2 separate regions of the Homo sapiens genome follow, and region 1 is linked to region 2. The links come from fine-mapping of genetic effects on gene expression. A gene starts in region 2. The other region holds a variant in brackets. All regions are shown on one strand. Distances are from middle to middle. Region 1 overlaps SPATS2 (spermatogenesis associated serine rich 2). Region 2 holds the start of SPATS2 (spermatogenesis associated serine rich 2).

Region 1 (2,913 bases), 140 kb before region 2:
ATACCACAAGTGATAATGTTATATAGATTAGAAGCACTGTACATAAAAGTTTCTGACATACAATAAAAGCTTAGTAATTGAGCTCAGTAAATAGCGGCAGCAATTATTATTTTAATTCTTGTATTCATCTTGATTTCTCAGTTTCAGCAGAATATCTCTTTAGTAAAATGCAATCGTATTAACCGGTAAATCATTATACATTCCAGATTCATTGTACAGAAATTATTAAATAAACATGTACGCACACTAACACAGTGTAGGCAGTTATGAAGTGATGAATCAAACTAATTTTAAGTGAAAAGATCACATTGAAATTACACTCTCACTGCGATTACAACTATTCAAGAATATGTATGAATATACATAAGGAACACAAGGGAACGCAGGAAATAAAAATTACTTATGTGTTAAGGTGGTAGAATTTTGAGTTTTACTTATATCTAATAAAACGATTATAATTATGGGCAATATAGTAAAAGTAAGAGGGAATAATGAAATCTTTAAAAAAAGGAAAAACAAAATTCAGATCCCTCCATCAAATGCTCTCATTATACCTCAGCCTCTGACTTCATCCCTCGCTACTTTCACTATTGCCCCATAGCAACAGCTAGACTGTGTGTGGTCCCTACGTGTCCCTTCTATGCCTCTGCTCATATCTCTGAAATGCAGTGGTCCACCCCAACCTTTCCGCCAGTGTAAATACCATGCTTTTTACATAGCTTGATAATGATTCATTTCCCCAAAGAAATATTTTCTAATTAACCCCACCCCACAGTGGCCCTGCCTTTAATCTTAAAACCTTTCCCGCTACTCTGATCTGACCTGAAGAATCCCAGAATCACAAGGCACTACAAGTTGTGACTTAAGAATAATAGTGATTTAGGACCTTCTGAATCACAAAATCAAAAGAACATTGAATATTCAGATGGAGTATTCTTATAGTTTTACTTTATTGAACTTAGAAAATACTTTCATAGGCTCAGCCTAAATCCTGGTGCTTCTCATCCTAACCTGTTTCATAATGACTAAGTTCCTTAGTCCCTAAATTCTCCTACATTGGGGTTTCTCTGTTACATAGCCTTTAAGCTGAAGAGGAAACAATACAGATGCTCCTCGGCTTACAATGGGGTTATGTCCCAATAAACCCACTGTAAATCGAAATTTTTTTTTTTTTTTTTAAAGAGACAGGGTCTTGCTCTGTCACCCAGCGTGGGAGTACAGTGGCAAGATCATGGCCCACTGCAGCCTCCACTTCCTGGGTTCAAGCGATCCTCTTGAGTAGCTGGACTATGGGCACGTGTCATTGCGCCCAGTTAATTTTGTTACTTTCTGTAAAGACGGGATCTCATTATGTTGCCTAGGCTGGTCTTGAACTCCTGGACTCAAGTAATCCTCCTGCCTTGGCCTCTGATATGGTTTGGCTGTGTCCCCACCCAAATCTCACCTTCAACTGTAATAATCGCCAAGTGTCAAGGGTGGGGCCAGGTGAAGATAACTGAATCATAGGGGTGGTTCCCCCATACTGTTTTTGTGGTAGTAGGTCTCAAAAGAGCTGATGGTTTTATAAATGAGAGTTCCCTTGCACAAGCTCTCTTGGCTGCCACCATGTAAGATGTGACTTTGCTCCTCCTTTGCCTTCAGCTATGATTGTGAGGCCTTCCCAGCCACGTAGAAGTGTGAGTCAATTAAAC[T/CT]CTTTCCTTGATAAATTACCCAGTCTTGAGTATGTCTTTATTAGCAGTGTGAGAACAGACGAATACAGCCTCCCGAAGTGCTGGGATTACAGGCATGTGCAAATTGAAAATATCTTAAGTTGATAATGCATTTAATATACCTAACCTATTGAACATCAAAGCTTAGCCTAGCCTACCTTAAACATGCTCAGAACATTTATATTAGCCTGCAGTTGGGCAAAGTCATCTAACACAACACCTATTTTATAATGAAGTGTTGAATATCTGATGTAATTTATTAAACACTACACTAAAAGTGAAAAACAAAATGGTTGTATGGGTATACAAAGTATGCTTTCTACTGAATGTGTATCACTTTCATACCATCATAAAGTTGGAAAATTATTAAGTTGAACCATCATAAGTAGGGAACTGTCTGTAATATGACATGTACCAACAGTCTCTAGCCTTGCCAAGCTTTAGTGGGGAAGTGAGCCATCAATGAGGTATGAGATGAAAATCATAGGTTAATAAGTCTGAATATATACATTCAAATATTGGATCTGCAACTTAGGCAAATTGCTTAACCTAAGACATACATTTATTTTCAGTAAAACAGAATTAACAATACCTACTTTGTGGAAAAGAAATCAGGATTAAAAAAATCCAATAATATAACTGAACATGTTCAGTAAAATATTCTTCATATGTTATTACTGGTTGAGCATTCCTAATCCAAAATGCTTCAAAAGCTGTACTTTTTTGAGCACTGACATGACACTGAAAGAAAATACTCATTGGAGCAGTTTGGATTTTGAATTTTTAGATTAGGGATGCTCAACTAGTTTCTGCAGACATTCCAAAATCTGAAAAAAATAAAAATAAAAAACCTAAAACATTTCTAGTCCTAAGCATTTCAGATAAGGGATACTCAACCTGTAATTATTTTCACAGATGGTTAGAGTTAAATTTTAAATAAAAAAATATCAAGAACCATGGTGTCAAGTACTAGTAGAAACAAGATATCAACAAACTAAGCTTCAAAAACCAAAGAATGATTTAGAACTACAGTGCTATGTACATTTTTGATAATACATATTACATTAGCACATTCCTTTATTTCTACACATTTTAGATATTTTTGGAGATAATATTTTGCAGGTAGTTTGGTTCATAAAATGATTCCTAAGTTTTCAGCATCTATATGTGGCCTTTAAATGTAAGGACTTAAAAGCCTTCGGTA
Region 2 (2,913 bases):
ACATCTAAGAAAAGTAACAATTTAAATCATTATTTTTGGACCTTTGTAAAGTAACCTAAATGCTACCATCCAAGACCTAGCTGAGAAATACAAACTGATTAATGTCCATAAATCTTAGATGAGTCAGCAAAACTTAATGCCCAACAAATAAAAGGCTTAACATGGACTACTTAGGAGCACACAATGGTCATTACAATTTCAAAATCGGCAATTTTCTATCTAGTACAATCACAAATTTGGTCTGGAAATCCAAATATTAAGGAAATGCAAACATCATAATCAATATTCCCAAATCACCTTAATTGAAACTGGAAGGTATGAGGCAGCCTATTTGAAGTTAACATCAAGAAATAATTTAAGGCAGAACCCCAACTCTCTCCCACAAACACAAAACCAGTAGCAGATGGCACAAGAACATTTCTCAGTGAGAAATTGCAATTCTAACAAAGTACAGGTAACTTAATTTTATCCATCACCTTTTGGTCAAACTGAAAACAAACAACCAAGCTTTTGGTTCTCTCCAAAACACTGAAATCTGCATTATCACTGACCTAACTTAAAGCAAGATATTTTTGGTGATCTGTCCTCTCCTGCTTCATTAACCGTAGGTAAATTAGGAACAGTAGCCTGCTAAACAGAGGGGAAGTAAATATCACAGGCATGTTTTATCAATAAAATGGACAAGCGATAATCAAATTATTTAAAGAACGGCTTGTACTCCTTAACAGAGGGACAAGCTTGAGAAAGATCCACTTTCTAAAAGAACCTAATCATTCTGGATGAATTATGAGAAAAATATCACTGTAGTCCAAAACTGACTGAATCTACCTTTCTGCTTTAATCCAAGTCCTAACCACATCTATTTTATGTCTCTGCGTCTGTTCGCCTGATTTTCCATTTCGTCTCCCCCTTCAATTCCAAGAACGCCCTTCTCTCCCTTATTTTCAAATCTCATTATTGCCCCCGAATGCTAAGGACCTCGCACAGCCACGGAGGTGACCTTACGCATCCCTACTGCATTCCTAATTCATTGTACTTCTCATCCCAAATGATCCTATTCTTTCGTTCTATCTCGCTCGTTGTTTCTTAAAATCCAATACCCCACACACGCTCACGCCAGAGTCCCCCCCACACTCCATTGTTTCCCCGGCCTATCCGTCTGGAAACTCCCCAACTCCGACGCGGGTGTTTCACCCGCCCCACAGACCCCAGGAACCTTCCACCCTCTGGGCACTTCGGGCCTCTAAGGGCTCACATCCCCCTCCTTCCCGTCCCCCCGCCCCCAACTACCCCCTCCCTCTTTTTCCTCCCTCAACCCGCTCCCCGCACCTCGGCGCCCTCTGAGCCCCCGCCAACCCCGCCACCCAGCACCCTTAGCCTCACCTAGCCCAGGCCCCCGCAATCGCCTCGTCGCCCCAGCTCCGGGCTCCGCGTCCCGGACGCTCCCGGGTCTGAGAAGAGGAAAGGAGATCCTCCACCTCCCCTTCTAGAGCCACCGCCGCCGTCGCCGCCGCGCTCCTCCCCCAGCTCTCTCAGAGCCGGACGCCGCCCCGCCCCCACCGCCGCCTCCCCACTTCTCTCCTGGGCCGGACTGCAGGATGCTGCCGGAGATCCAGCAGATCACCCCGACCCTCGCCCAGGCAGCGGCTCGCCCCGCCCCGGAGCCCTCTCGGGCGCGTGCGCGCCAGCCAGCCAGCCAGAGCTCAGGGCGCGTACTCGCGCCGGCGCGAATCCGGCGCGCCAAGCTCGAGGCTGTGGCAGCCAACGGGTGCGCGAGCGCGGCTCGAGCGGCGAGACGGCCCGCGCACCGGAGACCGAGAAGATCGGGGAGAGGCGCGGGGCGGCGAGAGGCGGGCTCCGACCAGTCGGGTTACCGCTCTTCTCGGGGCCCGGTCCCTCGCGTCTCGCACCGTCCGCAGGCTCGCGCGCCACCGGAGACTGGGAATTACCGGGGAAAGGAAGAGACTCGGGGAGAGGGTTGGGGACAAAGTAGATGGAAGGGGAAAACGGGTGGGACGCGAGCTCGCGTCCGCGTGCAGCACAGCTCGTACCCGGCGGCATCGGTTAGGGACCCGGCGCGCGCCGGGAACGGAGGGCCCGAGCTGAACTGACGGAAAGAGCCGAAACTCCCCCGGAGGTGGCCGAACGCGGGCGCCGCTAGGGGAGTCGAGCGCGGGGCTTTTGCTCAATGTCCGGGTTGGGAAGCTTTTTCTCTGGCCGCCGGGTACAGCGCCGCTCACTCTTCCGTACCGAGGACTTCACACCGCTTTCCCCTTCGCCTCCTTCCCGACCCAAGTTTTGTTCCAAAAGGCAATTTCAGAGTCGCCAACGACGGGAAACGCTGGGGCCTCCGGACCGCGCGGTCGCTCTGCCTCCTGAGAGAGCGCAGAGGCCGGTGGGGGCGCGGGAAGAATGACCTCGGGATCGTCAGTCGGGTTTCTGATCTACCCAGCTGTCAGCATAGCCCCTCTACGCGGCGGTGGTCGGTCCCGCCGCCCTTCGAATCTTTTCTGTTAAATACTCTCTTCGACGCCAGACTCCCAACCTCCCTGGTGCTGGAACTAACTAGTATTTGTGCACCCTTTCTGCATGCATAAAGCACTTACCTCAGTGTCGACTGGTCAGGGGTCTATTAAGAGGGGCCAGAGGGATTTAGACAGTCAGCATTGAAAATATTTATTAGAATCTGGGGCCGGGCGCGGTGGCTCACGTCTGTAATCCCAGCACTTCTGAGAGGCCGAGGCGGGCGGATGACTTGAGGTCAGGAGTTCGAGACCAGCCTGGCTAACATAGTGAAACCCCGTCTCTACAAAAAATACAAAAATTAGCCGGATGTGGTGGCACACGCCTGTAATCTCAGCTACTCGGGAGGCTGAGGCAGGAGAATAACCTGAACCCAGGAGTCGGAGGTTG

What was found. PIP is the estimated chance that this variant, and not a neighbour inherited with it, causes the effect.
Region 1: its variant is the best candidate, but not a certain one, in a credible set for the expression of SPATS2 in thyroid (GTEx, PIP 0.63).

The regions. Positions count from the first base shown.
Region 1 is chr12:49,505,102-49,508,014 of GRCh38, reverse strand. All of the region lies in intron 9 of SPATS2 (spermatogenesis associated serine rich 2), which reads right to left. Among named protein-coding and RNA genes, the nearest start is that of KCNH3, 32 kb to the left of the region's middle. The variant T/CT (reference allele first, on the strand shown) is at 1,692.
Region 2 is chr12:49,366,058-49,368,970 of GRCh38, reverse strand. It overlaps SPATS2 (spermatogenesis associated serine rich 2), which reads right to left and starts at 1,509. Exons shown (of 14, transcript NM_023071.4): 1 at 1,384-1,509. RefSeq lists silencers at 1,230-1,299, 1,330-1,379, 1,400-1,879 and an enhancer at 2,170-2,429.